Linked DNA regions of Homo sapiens. The protein of the gene in region 4 purifies or fractionates together with the protein of the main gene of each other region. This does not show direct contact. Each region holds a gene or a part of one and is shown on either strand. Other genes may lie near its edges.

Region 1 (3,500 bases), on a different chromosome or scaffold from region 4:
ATTTTTTAAAGATAAGGTCTTGCTCTGTTGCCCAGCCTGGAATGCTGTGGTGATCACAGCTCACTGCCGCTTCTGGGCTTAAGTGATCCTCTTATCTCAGCCTCCCAAGTAGCCAGAACTAGAGGTGCACACCACTACGCCTGGCTAGTTCTTAAATTTTTAGTAGATACGAGGTCTCACTATGTTTCCCAGGCTTCTCTTGAACTTCTGGCCTCAAGTGATCCTCCCACCTCAACCTCCCAAAGCATTGGGATTACAGGCATAAGCCACCATACCTGGCCCTATTTTAAATTTCTTAATACAAATAGTTTGGTTTTATCAAAGGTGGATTCAGGTTTTGTGGGGGCCTAAGGTTTATATAATTAGAAAACAGGGGAACCTTTTTATGAAGTTAAAAAAAAAATCAGTAAGACTATGCATAATATAAAATTAAGAACAGGGCCAGGCATGGTGGCTGACACCTGTAATCCTAGCACTTTGGGAGGCCGAGGCGGGCAGATCACCTGAGGTCAGGAGTTCGAGACCAGCCTGGCCAACATGGTGAAACCCCTTCTCTACTAAAAATACAAAATTTAGCTGGGCGCCTATACTCTCAGCTACTTGGGAAGCTGAGGCAGGAGAATTGCTTGAACCTGGGAGACGGAGGTTGTAGTGAGCTGAGATTGCACCACTGCTCTACACAGCCTGGGTAACAGAGCAGGACTCCGTCTCAAAAAAAACACTTTTTTAAATTAAATTAAATTAAGAACAGGGTCAGAGAAAACCTAGACAAGCAAGGGCTCTGCAGCTTCAGCTTTGTTAGCTTCACAGTAAATCTACCTCTAGTCATAAAAACAAAATTCCCTTTTTATAATTCCTTCATAATTATAAATTATAAATTATAGGCAAGATGTTCAACACTAATATTTATTGTATATAAAAAGAAAAATTTCTAAGTTGCTAATGAAAATCAACTCTTCTTATCAAATTTCAGTAATTTCAGTAACATATTTGCCCCTTTTATACTACAATAATCTCACAATTATGTAATTGTATAAACCATACTAGAAGCAAAGTGAAGGAAGGTTTTAGTTAGTTGTTAATAACTACATCTGATTCCAGTTGAAAAAACCAGTAATTTTTTAAATGCCTTTTTAATTTTTTTTTTTTTTTTTTTTTTTGAGACAGAGTCTCGCTCTGTCACCCAGGCTAGAAGGCAGTAGTGTGATCTCGACTCACTGCAACCTCTGCCTCCTGGGTTCAAACAATTCTCCTGCCTCAGCCTCCTGAGTGCCTGGGACTACAGATGCAAGCCAACATGCCCAGCTAATTTTTGTGTTTTTAGTAGAGACAGGGTTTCACCATGTTGGCCAGGCTGGTCTCAAACTCCTGACTTAAGATGATTGGCTCACCTCAGCCTCCCAAAATGCCTGGACTAAAATGCTTTTTTTTTTTTTTTTTTTTCCAGTGGCTGTGCTCCACGTATAATTCACAGAAAATAGCTATTGGTGAAGAATAAAAACAACATTGAGAGATCTATTAAACTTATTATCACCCCTTTTACTTATTAAGAAACTAATTATTTTAAAATAAGAATCTTTATGTCAAATAAAAATAAGATGCTAAGACAAGGAAACTGTAAAGCCGTTCTTGTTTTGGCATTTAATTTCAAGTAATTTGAGCTAATGGCACTGTTATGTACTGATGTCACTCTCTCTCATGGAAGGGAGTGGGAAGGGGAGGAAAAGAGAAATCTTGGCTTCAAACAAAATATTCAGATTATGCTGAGACATAAAACAAAAGTGGACATTCTTTATAAACCATGCTGTGCTGAAAGTTGCTGCATGCTGCTGACCCTCTGGGTGGGTTTGTGAGACCTGGGCACTCATTGGGTAACTTGTAGAATCCTTGCCTCTTCCTAGGAATTTAGCCAGAATAGCTTAAACAGTGGCTGGCCTATTCTATAGAATGGGGAGAAGGTGACTCTTAAACAAGGCTGAATGAAAAATAGGCATGGGCTGTCAGGTATCTATGATTTGGTTGAAACAGATAAACCAAGCTGAGAGGTAGAATGTCCTCTCTGGTATTCTGACATTTTAGAAAACTGAGACGACCGTTATCTTTCCCCTTCTTTCTCCTTGTTGGTACAATAAACAGGGCAGGAAATGATGGCCCCTTGTTTTTTTTTTTTTTTTTTTTTTTTTTTTTTGAGACAGAGCCTTGCTCTGTCTCCCAGGCTGGAGTGCAGTGTCAAAATCTCGGCCCACTGCAACCTCCGCCTCCAGGGTTTAAGCAATTCTCCTGGCTCAGCCTCCCGAGTAGCTGGGATTACAGGCCTGTGCCATCACGCCCAGCTGATTTTGTATTTTTAATAGAGACGGGGTTTCACCATGTTGGCCAGGCTAGTCTCAAACTCCTGACCTCAAGTGATCCGCCCACCTAGGCCTCCCAAAGTGCTGGGATTACAGGCATGAGCCACTCCGCCTGGCCTCTTTTACAGACCAAACTCATTGTTTCCATGCCCATCCAGTGCTATAAAAATAATTTAAAAACATAAAAACAGAGTGGCTGATAATGAAGAAAAAATCCTTACAAAGTACTGAATTGAAGCTGAAAGTCTCTCTAAAAAAAAAACAAACAAACAAACAAAAAAAGCCTTTGTGCCAACCAAGTCTCACCCTCCCTTTCCCAAAGATATATATGTTAAACCAAAATAAGGGCAGACCATGCAACATTTTTCACATTTTTAATGTAATGAATTTCTGACGTTATAATGGAGGAGCATAAAGGTGACAACCAAAAACAGCTCTTGTAGTCTAATGTCTTAAAATCCACACCCTTTCACCTTGCATGTGTGGAAGAAGAAAGAGCAGAAGATAAAATCACTTCCACCTGGACCACTGCTTTTCTTTATCTGTTAAAGGCACGTATATCACCCCCATCAGAGGCTTCATTTTGATGCTGCCATCTTGTAGCTTGTCATACTGCTCCAACATTTGGTTTCCGCCTGCAGGACCAACAGGCAATATCAATCTTCCTCCGGGCTTTAACTGATCTATTAGCTAAAAGAAAAAAAAAAAAGCACATACATCACCAAGTTACAGATTTTATTTTATTTTATTTATTTATTTTTGAGACAGGGTCTCACTCTGTCGCCCAGGCTGGAGTGCAATGACACGATCTCAGCTCACTGCAACCTCTGCCTCCCAGGTTCAAGTGATTCTCCTGCCTCAGTCTCCCAAGTAGCTGGGACTACAGGCACACGCCACCATGCCCAGCTAATTTTTGTATTTTTAGTAGAGACAAGGTTTCACCATATTGGCCACACTGGTCTCGAACTCCTAACCTCAAGTACTCCACCCACCTCGGCTTCCCAAAGTGCTTGGATTACAGGCGTGAGCTACTGTGCCCGGCCCAGATTTTATATTAATAGTCATTTGACATCATTATAAACAACTTTTAGTGTCCATAGGCAGAAAGCAGAAACGTTCTTTATTTAGTATATACAAATTAAGGCCAGA
Region 2 (4,247 bases), on a different chromosome or scaffold from region 4:
GAAACAGGGATGCAGGAGAAGATGGGTGTATTTGGGAACAATCATGTTGGGAATGACAAATGAACTTCTATTAAGAAATTAAAATAAAAAACCTGAACCAAACATCAAAAATCCTGAAAACAAACCCCATTAATCTAACTGGAAAATTACAAGAGGATGGTAGTGGTCTAGGAAGCTAAGTGGGGCTACATTTCCTAATAAACCAGATGAAACTTTCTTTACCTGTCACAAGTTATTAAAGAGATTTCAAATTCTGCAGAATTCGAAAGTAACAGTTTTATCACAATACATGCTAATGCTAGTTATTTTTCCTAAATTGAAATCTTATTACATGGAAGTTGGGAAATTCTAGGACAGACTGTTCTTAATGTTAAAATATATTTTTAGAAGAATATTCCGGCATACATTTCCTTTCTTGTTTCTCTTCAAGTGTCCTAGTCACCCAGGTGCATGCTAGAAGACAGCAATATGTCAAATATAGTAGCAACTTTAGTCTGAAATGTTTAAAGTTAAAGTTTATTTGTATTCTTTGTAGGAATATCAATAAAAGACCTCAAACGTATCTATATCTGTACATGTACAAGAACTGTCAAAAATTATTCACAGAACAAAAATAAATCTTCTTTAGAACAAACCCAGGTAATGAAATGCTGATACGGATCTCACATACGGAATAATCTAAATGCTACTAGCACAAAAATATGGCTTTAAAAATAAAATAAAATCTTGGGTTTTGTTTTTCTAAGGTGTATTTCTCTTTCTTGAAATAAAAAATAAATTATTTAGAGCTATCATTGTAAAATAGTCGTGTGTTAACACACTCTTATTAAGGCCCTGGAGATGAAAAACAAAATCAAATTTAGAAGGTCATTTCCTCACAGGTGTAACTCAGGTTAATGTGCTGCTGTCTGCTTAAGTTAATATAACTAGGAAATGTCTAAGCACCAGTCAAAATTTAACCTAATTTACTATTTAACTTTCCTGAAGGTGGTCATTGAGTCAATTAGTATTTAACCTTTTGTTGAACTGGGAATTGAAATGTTTCCCTCGAAAATTTGGAAATCACATAAAATGATATTTACACATAAATATCTGTACCCCCACAAAGATGATGGAGGTCCCTAAAACACAACTTCTGTGGAAATCTCTCTACAACAACAAATAAATCTGGTTTTAAGTCTCAAACTAAAAAAAAAAACAAAAAACTTCCTAGGGTCAAATGAGGGTATTTAAGTGGAAGATAGCAACTGAGTAGGAAAGGAAAATGCATGCTGAAATGCAGGCAAAGACTACCACTTTCCTTTCCTCGGGTGCTCACTGCATTTCCCAAGTCTTGCTGTGTTGGTTACTCAAACACTTGAGGCTTAACTGATCAGGAACTGAAACTACTTATTTCTGGATCCTACTCTCAGATCAATGATATTCAACTTTATTTCTATGATTCCCCATGGTATCAATAATGATATCTAGGGTTCTTGAGACAATGCCAAACCAAGTCAATTTCAAGTTGCTTTAACTTATATATACATATAACACATATAGTACATTTTTTAGGATGATAGAATGTCATAAAATCTAACAGACGAGAGCATAAAATCTGAAAATCTCAAAGTTTGGGAATCACTGCTCGATAAAATGGATTAACATTCAGAAAAAGGAAGCCCCAGGAATTATGTTTTGTGTGGGTGTGTGCATGTGTTGTCTACAGAGACTGCCTTTTTATGTATCTATGTATTTTAAGAGTGGGCAAGGGATATAAATATTCCTGTTTCCTGGAAACTCTGGGCTACTGAGAAGACTGCTTATGCATTCATTCCCTTAGGGTCGTGTCTCTTCCTCAGGTTCTTTCACTCCTCCTAAGATATTTATTCTATCTCATGCAAATTTCATCACTTTTGTCCTTCCTAAACCCAAGAGTATACATAATCGGGTCATGACAAAGAGAATGCTTCTAGAACTAATAACAATCATTCAAACATGAAAAGAGATTCTATTTAAAAATTCAACACTCCAACATTTCTTGCTTTTAAGAAACTAAATCCTTCAACTGACGCATTGAAAAAACAAAGTATCTCAAATTATCGGCCCCCAGGTAAGGGGTAGGAAGGCAACTATTTACTGCTGGGGTAAGCAGGAGATTTCACTATTAGACTTGAAAAAGGGAAGGAGAATGGAGAAGGGAGCCCTTCTGGCTTTCCACAGTTGATAGGAGAAGGTGGCCTCCAAAGGTGTAGCTGAAAATGCAGTGAAGCTATGGCATGTGGCTGTTGGGTTTGGCCCTGTGACAAGTCTAGTCTGGTGTCAAGCGTGTGTGTTGGGCTCAATGTCACAATGGGGTAGACTGATGGGACTGAGGTAATCCTGAAGAGGGTTCCTTTCCCACGCTCAGTCCTATAACCAGCCTTCTCAGGAACTCCAAGCTAGAGGTAACTAAAACTAACCCTCTATGGAAGGGGAAACAAATACGAATGCAAACTCACTTGATGGCAGTTATTTTGCTCTGGGACTTCCAAAGAAGAACTCTGCTCTCAATCTGGTGTACCTCTGAGAACACAGTGAAAGCCAGGGGTCTACAGAACCACAGACCCATCAACAAAGGCCCCGGGTAGACTAAGATCTGAAAAGCTTTACTTCCAAAGTCAAGCTCATTCTTAAGGGCATATAGTTAACACTTGTAGCAGTCTTAGGTAATCTTCTTTTTCTTTCATAATCTTAACACCATCACAGAGAAACACGGAAGCAGACCAGTCAGAGAAAGCTAATTCTGACCAACTTGATACTATATGAAAAAAAGCAAAAAGCTATAGCAGCATGATTACCTCATTTTACCACATTTTTCTTACCGTTAGACTGCCATAAACCCCAACAGTACCTTGGTGATAGTGCTTGGAACATGGTAAGTGCTCAAGTGCTTGTTATAGTTACCTAGTTATAATCTCCCCTCTGACATGGCTTTTGCTGCAGAGACTCAGGGAATATGATGACCTGATGGAAATGTGACTCTTTTTGCTGCTTCAGCTCAGATTGCTTATTGCTTCAGTAATATAAAAGGGGAATATGAAGCTCTTTTCTGACTCCTACCAACACTGTCCTCATTAATGGTCAAGTCTGTTGTCAGCTAGACATGCACTTTACAAGCACTTCACCTGAATTCCAAATTCCACTCAACCCTGATCTATCCTGCGCCCCACAATGTGGTGTTGTTTTGAGGGAAACAGGAAGTGCAAGACATTGCTATCTTAATCTATTTGCCTCTCTTCAGCCATGTACCTCCTCCCAGCAAACAAAGTTATTTACCTACTTGAACTGAGGGAAAGCCAATTAAGAAACATCTCCATAAAAATTATCACCTGTTGGTGGCTTCTCTTCTTAAAAAATCCTTCAGAGTAACTTATACAGATTGCAGCATTCTCTAAAGAAATACTGAGAAAAAAGGTTGGACAGGAGTAGGCTCACAGGATAACTTAACATTTAACATCTATCAGCAACTCTGAACTTTTAGCTTATTGGTAATGCTCTATTATTATTATTTTTTACTATTTCTTCTTCATTCAAGATAACCTGGTAGTAGAAGGCTGCATAATCTGTCCAAATGTTTTGGGCATTAAATCTTTCAGTGAAGACAGCCCTCTAAGGAGCTCCCATAATGCTAATAAGATACACTCTATCCATCAAAAGCACATTTGATTTTTTGGGGCTTCTCTCAATTCCCAATATAAGTAATTTTATCAGCCCTCTGTAATCCATAATCGGCACTTAAGAGCTTCCAAACCTCAATGGCAAGACATCACCCACATTACATACTTATGGCCAATGAAACTGACAATTCTCTTACCAGGTTTTCTGTGGCACAATTGAAGGCTTTTACAAAGAATGAATTAAACATGGCTTGAGCTGAGAATAGCCAGAAACAAGAACAAATCTATGCTTACATCCCTCCTCCTTCAACAAAGGACACTACACTTTGGAACAGTTACCTCTTTTTCCTAATAAAATAAGTGATTTTGACCACAGTGTGCCCTCCGCTTGGAGAGAAGGTGTAAGAATTTGCAAACCAAAACCAAAGGTGAAGAAAACGTAAAAGTGCCAAAACAGCTGGATATAAAGTGTGCAGATCAGATAAACACAGTGAGAAACTCCCATTTTAGATCTGTCTGGCAGAAACAGGGATTGCTATGAAAGAAACTGTTTTAAAAGGTTGTGGGTTATGTGGCCATGGTGAGGTTGCTGAAACGTAAGGTCCAACA
Region 3 (2,596 bases), on a different chromosome or scaffold from region 4:
CTTATCTTTTAATGGGTACTTCCACATGCCTACAACCCGAATGGAGAATGACATTAATAGAATGACCTTGTAGCCCTCAAGTTATTTTAAAAGTGCTTTCTGACTTGTTAAATAAGATAAACAGTAGTATAATTTGGGAATTAACCGTAATTTATAGTGCAGTAATGCTCTGGCAATTGGGGTCAGCATGTGTGAGTGTGTGTGTTTACTCTTATTTGACCACATAATTGAAGTAGAATATGCCTTTTTATGATTACTTTGATTTAAATGATGTTAATCAGCCCAGGATGGTCAAAAGGGGCACATACCATAGCATTCATGCTTGGTTTTTATTTTCCTTGATTTAAAAAAAAATCAACTTAGATATTGTTAAAATGCATCACAGTACCTCTTTGTCAGCAAGTCAGTCAAAAAGATTTCCAAACAGCTTTACGGTTTCCAGCTGCCCTCTGGAAGCAACACTAGTTTCACCTCAAACAAGGAAGACACCTCTTGGAGTTTCAGCTGTTACAACTCAGCTAAATTTCAAGGTCTGTGTTCCCATATTCTCTGTAGTATTTTAAACCTTCTCAGAGCACTTGTTTTGTCAATGGGATGCTGCATTCCTGGTAAAACAGCAATCATGTGGTCACCTAGGCACACTAGCCAAATGGTCCTGGGATCCCAAATCACCCATGAAATCCTTCAAGAAGTCTTCATCATCGGGAAGGTTTGCTTCCTGAGGAGTTAAAGAAAAAATAGTGAATCAACTCCAGTCTAGACAAAAGTTAGTATAATGAAAACTAAACATTATACTGGTCTGGTCCCTGTAGTTTTTGTTTTCTGACATTCTCTGCATTTTGAAACATCTTCTTTTGCGTTTTAAATTTTGACAAGAGGTCAGTAACTTTATTAAATACAGCTATCATCTCGTTTCTCTGGCAGAACAAATTCCATCTCCCTGCAGGCCTTTTTCTGCGCTTTAAAAATTTCTCTTTGCCTCCAACTACTCATGGGGCAGTAAAGAAAATTTCTTTACATGTTGGTAAGGCCAGTGCTAACTACTACAGAGTTGGACAACAAAATAGGAAGCAATGCAGGCAGTTGAACTAAATATCTGAGGGCAAACAGATTCCTCCCTTTTCAAACACCAATATCTCTTAAAGGCCCAGGCGCGGGTCACACGACAGGGAAGAGTGGCCTTATGGCTACTCAAGCCACGTGTTTACCTAAAATGTGCTCCTAGTCGCATAGCTTCTCAGAATAGTCAAAGAAGAAAGGAAAAGAAAGCTGGATGTCCCGGGTTTATTTTTTCTGCATCTTTGCAAATATGAGACACAACTCTGTTCCAGGAGCTTTCGATGCGCTTCTACAGGTATTTCTTTTTTCTTTGTGTCAAGGATAAATGTGAAGATAGCTGTGGAATTGTCCGAACATTTTTGCCTTGAAATTAAGCAATGTTTTATGCCTAATTTCCCAAAGGACAAGTTATTTATGCCAGTATTAAAAGCAGCAACTTATATATTCTACGCAAAACAGAAAACCAGAAAGATCTAAATTTTGACAAGTCCCTAGTTTGATGAATTGAAAGACAGGAAGATGACTACATCACAGCAGATAAAAGAGATATTTTCATAAACTAAGCTCTGGGAAACAGAATACCAAAATTACCCATGTACAACCAACTACTGCTCATGGGTTCCCCAGAGGACTTGTGTGCGGATTATACGAGTCATTGCCCAGTTGTGATAGTCTCAGTTTTGAAAAGCAATTATCTTTACCCCATGGGGCAAGAAACTTATAAACGTATTTAGTTCTATTATAATTGAGACACTTTTATTATAAGTTGTAAATCTCTATCTACCAAGAGGACAAAAACCTCCAAATATATTTGTTTTCTCTTTCACTTAGAAAACCTACCTTTGTTCGTCTCAAGTTTTCTGAATCTTTCAAGAAATCCTAAAATGAATCCTTATAAATTTCAGCAGAAAAAGCACAGCTTAAATTCCTGCTTCCACATCTTCCAGAAGTTGCAGAACTGGTCTCAGAACAAGGGACTTCTGCAGGAAGTCAGAGGACCGCCCCACTGACCAGGTGTTCACACTCTGTCGTGGCTTTCCCTGCTGGTCTCCTCCAGTGGGAACACCAGTGCTGGGAGGTGGGGAGCTGTGAAGGGGCTAAGGTCATGAGCAGACACTGTTCCGGTGATCTGGAGAAAGCCCAGGCAACTCTGTTCTCCTCATACACCCCACCCCTGGTAGCCGGGCAGTAAGTCTCTGCATTGCAGTTTCAAAGAGGCCTGTGCTGTTTTGGGTCTAGGGAAGTACATTAGTAAAGAAAATCTTTATAGTGCTGGTGACTGCCAATTCCATATAAAAACTGGGGTAGCTTCTGTGGGACTGTACCCCTGCTCTGAGAAATAATGTGAAACTTCTCAGAAGACAGTTGCCATTGTCTCCAGTCTGGAACAAACGGGATTCAGGTGGAGGGAGACATGAGGGGAGGAAGAAGCCCATGAGCCTTTTTCCTGCCTCCATCCTTAGTGCCTTCCCAAACCTGCTCTCACTTTCCCTCTTCCTTCAACTATTTCTCTTTGTCATAAAAGTGAAAGTTCTCA
Region 4 (3,500 bases):
TACAATCACCACTGTCCCCAAACCAACAAGACAGGGGCCCAGGAGGGTGCTGGCAGGATGGTGAGTCAGGGCAGGGTCCCCTGAGGCCCTTGCACCAGTGAAGATGGGAGAGTCAGGAGTCTGACTCGCCTCCCCAGACTCAGACCCAGAGGACCCAGACCCTTCGAAATCAACTCCGAACTAGAAACTAAGACCAATGGTGGGGGCGCAGCGCACAGCACTACTGCTGGGCCCAGCACACGTGGGTATTTTACACGCCACGACCTCATTACTTTGCACGACCCCATTTTGCAGATGGGGAAGCCAAGGATGGACAAGGTCATCACCTGCTCAAGCGCATACAGCTCACAAAAGGAAGAACCAGCACCCAAACCTAGGTCGAATTTACTCTAGAGCCAGTACAAAGAGGAGTAAATCTGTACTTAGTTTTTAAAATGAATGAGATGACTATGCAGATAAACAGGAAGTCCTGTCCCCAGGGAGGTCCCACCACACAAGATTCTGGATTTTCTGAGTGATCTTGGGCTGTCCCCGCTCCAGCCATGGGCCTGTCTCCTGTCTGCAAAAAGAGCGACGGGACCTGGGATGGGCGCTGTCTAGGAACAAGTCTGTGCCAAGAGCTGTCTCCATGCCCTTTGACCTCCAGCCAGTGGCTCCAGACTTCAGTGCTCAGCCCAACAGCTTCAATAATACGAGGGTCCTTTACACCCACTCCAATTTCACAAACAGTAAGGAGCTGGGTACACTCATTTCAGATGAGAAGACTGAGGCTCAGAATGATATGGTGACTTACTCCAGGTCACACAGCAAATGAGGAACACGCTGGGGATCTGAACCTGGACTGGCCCCCACATCTCAGCCCTTTTCTTTCCTTCTTTTTTTTTTTTTTTTGATGGAGTCTTGCTTTGTCGCCCAGGCTGGAGTGCAATGACACGATCTCAGCTCACTGCAACCTCCACCTCCCAGATTCAAGCCATTCTTCCGCCTCAGCCTCCAGAGTACCTGGGATACAGGCATGTGCCACCACACCCAGCTAATTTTTGTATCTTTAGTAGAGACAGCGTTTCACCATGTTGGCCAGGCTGGTCTCGAACTCCTGACCTCAAGTGATCTGCCCGCCTCGGCCTCCCAAAGTGCTGGGATTACAGGTGTGAGCCATATCTCCTGGCCTCCTTTTTTTTGAGACATGGTCTCACTCTGACACCCACGCTGGAGTGTGATCTCAGCTCACTGTAGCCTCAACCTCCATGGCTCAGGTGATTCTCCCACCTCAGCCTCCTGAGTAGCTGAGATTACAGGCGCGTGCCGCCATGCCCAGCTACTTTTTATATTTTTCTTGTAGAGATGGGGTCTCACCATGTTGCCCAAGTTGGTTTCGAACTCCTGGACTCCAGCAATCTGTCTGTCTTGGCTTCCCAAAGTGCTGGCGTTACAGGTGTGAGCCACCGCACCTGGCCATCCCGGCATTTTTCTATTCTGCTGTGAGGCTACTGTGCATGTCTGTGCATGTCACAATCCCCATTTTCTCATTGGTTTGCTTGACTAGCCTTCAGTGAACACCCACTGCGCTGGGCACTAGCAGATATTACCAAATGCCTGCCTCCCCGGGAGTAGCTTGGGGTCGCAGAGAAAAACCTTTAAACCAGCTGCACCACACACTCTCCCTCCCTCTGAGCTCCAGGGTGTCCATAGGGGAGGCTCATCTACTAAGCACTCAGCAATGAACTGCACATCTGGCTGGCACTTTAGAGTTTACAAAATACTTTCCCATCTGTCATTTCATCTCTGCCTTGGAACAGTTCTTGGTCAGTCAGGCAGCATTATCACAAACTACAGATGGGGACACTGAGGCACAGAGGAGCTGCATGACCTTCCCACAGCCACACAAAGCCACGTCTAGAACGCAGAGCTAGACGTCTAACGTCTCCCTCGGCATGTTCTGTCTTCCACGCTCTCACTCATGTGGAGGGCTGTGGGCATACAGGCTGCTTCTGCCAGTTTTCTAGAGCGGTCTTGGGAGGCCAACTTGACCATCTGTGCCTCAGTTTCCTGATGTGCCAAACAAATAATCTGGTACTATCTCTAGGGGCTGCAGAAAGTACCCTGCAAGGAAGTGGTCAGGGAACTCCCAGTCTCCGTCCCCGTCTCCATTGAGGCTTCCTTAGCACATTTCATACTCCAAGGAACCCTAACCATGGGGTAACAGAAACCCCGAAGTTCTGAGCTGATGGACACGACACACAGACTTGGTGTTCTCTGCACTGGACAGAGCTGATTTTCATTTTCCAAGGAGGGTAACCAAGGCACAGAGGTGTGTCTAGCCTGCTTCTGAGGGTGCAGGGACAGGAATGAGGATAACTCGTAGAAGGGCTGGCCACCTCACTCCAGCAACTTCAAGCCTCCACCCGCTAATCCACAAGCACCAACACTAAATACCTTCCCTTTGGACCAATAAGCACAAAGGAAGGGCCAAGACTCATGACCGTGCCCCTCAGAAGTGGCACTGAAAGGCGCAAGCCTCATTTCTCCCAGGCCAAGGGGAGGACTGAGAGGTCAGTGATTTGTTTAAAATGCAACATCACAGCATACTCATACTTTCAACAGGAAGCACATCCGGAGAGAAAAAGAGAGAGAGAGAACTCCCTAATGAGGAGACCGCATCCCCCCACCCCACCCCCGAGGTTACAGGGGAGCCTGCGTCATCCCAAAGCCTGCCTGGGCTGGGTTCCAGGAGGCCAGGACATAGAGAGGGGGGCCTGGCTAGGGGTCCAGCAGCAACCCAAGTCCCTTCTATCTACCAATATCCTTCTCCCAGGAAGCAGGGGAGAGGATGTGAACCCCGCCTGGGTTTTCCCACACCCAGCTGGTGACCCAGCTGACCCGGGACACTGAGGCACAAAAGAACCGCATGACTCCTGCAGAAACTGGAGCTAAAAATACCCTCCAGTGCCCAGCCTGGCCTGCGAGAGGAGCCCCCTGGCCTGCCTCCCGGCAACCTGCTGCTTCCTTCCCCATCTGGGATGGCCCTGGGGCAAATCATGCCCCTGGAGCCACATTCTGACTTCAGATCCCCAAATCCTGGGGTCTTTCCTCCTCTTGGTCCCATGGGCTGGCCCCAGGGGCTCCAGCTGGAGCTAGGAACACTTACCCAGGTAGATATCTCCGAAGGACCCGCTCCCGATCTTCCGTCCCAGGCGGTACTTGTTCCCCACACGTAGCTCCATGGCTCACTCTTGCTGCAGAGGAAGCAGGAACATGAGGGTCAGCGACGTGGGGAGCCGGGAAAGGGGTCCAGTCCACCAAGGCCAGGCAGAGCCACCAGGAACTCGAAAACCTGCATTCTCGAAGACCACATTCTGCAGGTGTCAGGTGGCCCACAGCCTGCACTCCACACACCTGGGGAACAGCTAAGGCAGGCTGAGGACAGGTTTCAGTGTGGCCAGAGAGGAAGCAGCCAAGCAAGCATGTCTTTGGGGGATGCTCATTCAGGGGCCCCTCAA

What was found. Proteins that work in one complex are often made in the same cells at the same time.
Region 1: the proteins of CSNK1E (region 4) and PCMT1 purify together in Homo sapiens (affinity purification with mass spectrometry; 3 studies listed by BioGRID and IntAct, with this or other methods). This does not show direct contact.
Region 2: the proteins of CSNK1E (region 4) and RASAL2 purify together in Homo sapiens (affinity purification with mass spectrometry; 3 studies listed by BioGRID and IntAct, with this or other methods). This does not show direct contact.
Region 3: the proteins of CSNK1E (region 4) and FAM110C purify together in Homo sapiens (affinity purification with mass spectrometry; 3 studies listed by BioGRID and IntAct, with this or other methods). This does not show direct contact.

What each region holds. Positions count from the first base shown.
Region 1 is NC_000006.12:149,801,741-149,805,240, reverse strand, and holds part of PCMT1 (protein-L-isoaspartate(D-aspartate) O-methyltransferase), read right to left. Parts: intron 3,042-3,500; coding exon 2,862-3,041; 3' UTR 2,825-2,861; exon of another isoform or gene 2,710-2,824; intron 2,117-2,709; exon of another isoform or gene 1,448-2,116; intron 1-1,447. UniProt on the Homo sapiens protein: Initiates the repair of damaged proteins by catalyzing methyl esterification of L-isoaspartyl and D-aspartyl residues produced by spontaneous isomerization and racemization of L-aspartyl and L-asparaginyl residues in aging peptides and proteins.
Region 2 is NC_000001.11:178,475,104-178,479,350, reverse strand, and holds the end of RASAL2 (ras GTPase-activating protein nGAP), read right to left. Parts: 3' UTR 501-4,247; downstream 1-500. UniProt on the Homo sapiens protein: Inhibitory regulator of the Ras-cyclic AMP pathway.
Region 3 is NC_000002.12:40,910-43,505, forward strand, and holds part of FAM110C (protein FAM110C), read right to left. Parts: intron 2,157-2,596; coding exon of another isoform or gene 2,050-2,156; exon of another isoform or gene 1,900-2,049; intron 1,397-1,899; exon of another isoform or gene 1,209-1,396; intron 719-1,208; coding exon 699-718; 3' UTR 1-698. UniProt on the Homo sapiens protein: May play a role in microtubule organization. May play a role in cell spreading and cell migration of epithelial cells; the function may involve the AKT1 signaling pathway.
Region 4 is NC_000022.11:38,310,934-38,314,433, forward strand, and holds part of CSNK1E (casein kinase I), read right to left. Parts: intron 3,237-3,500; 5' UTR 3,225-3,236; coding exon 3,149-3,224; intron 1-3,148. Other genes in the region: TPTEP2-CSNK1E (casein kinase I), read right to left, coding at 3,149-3,224.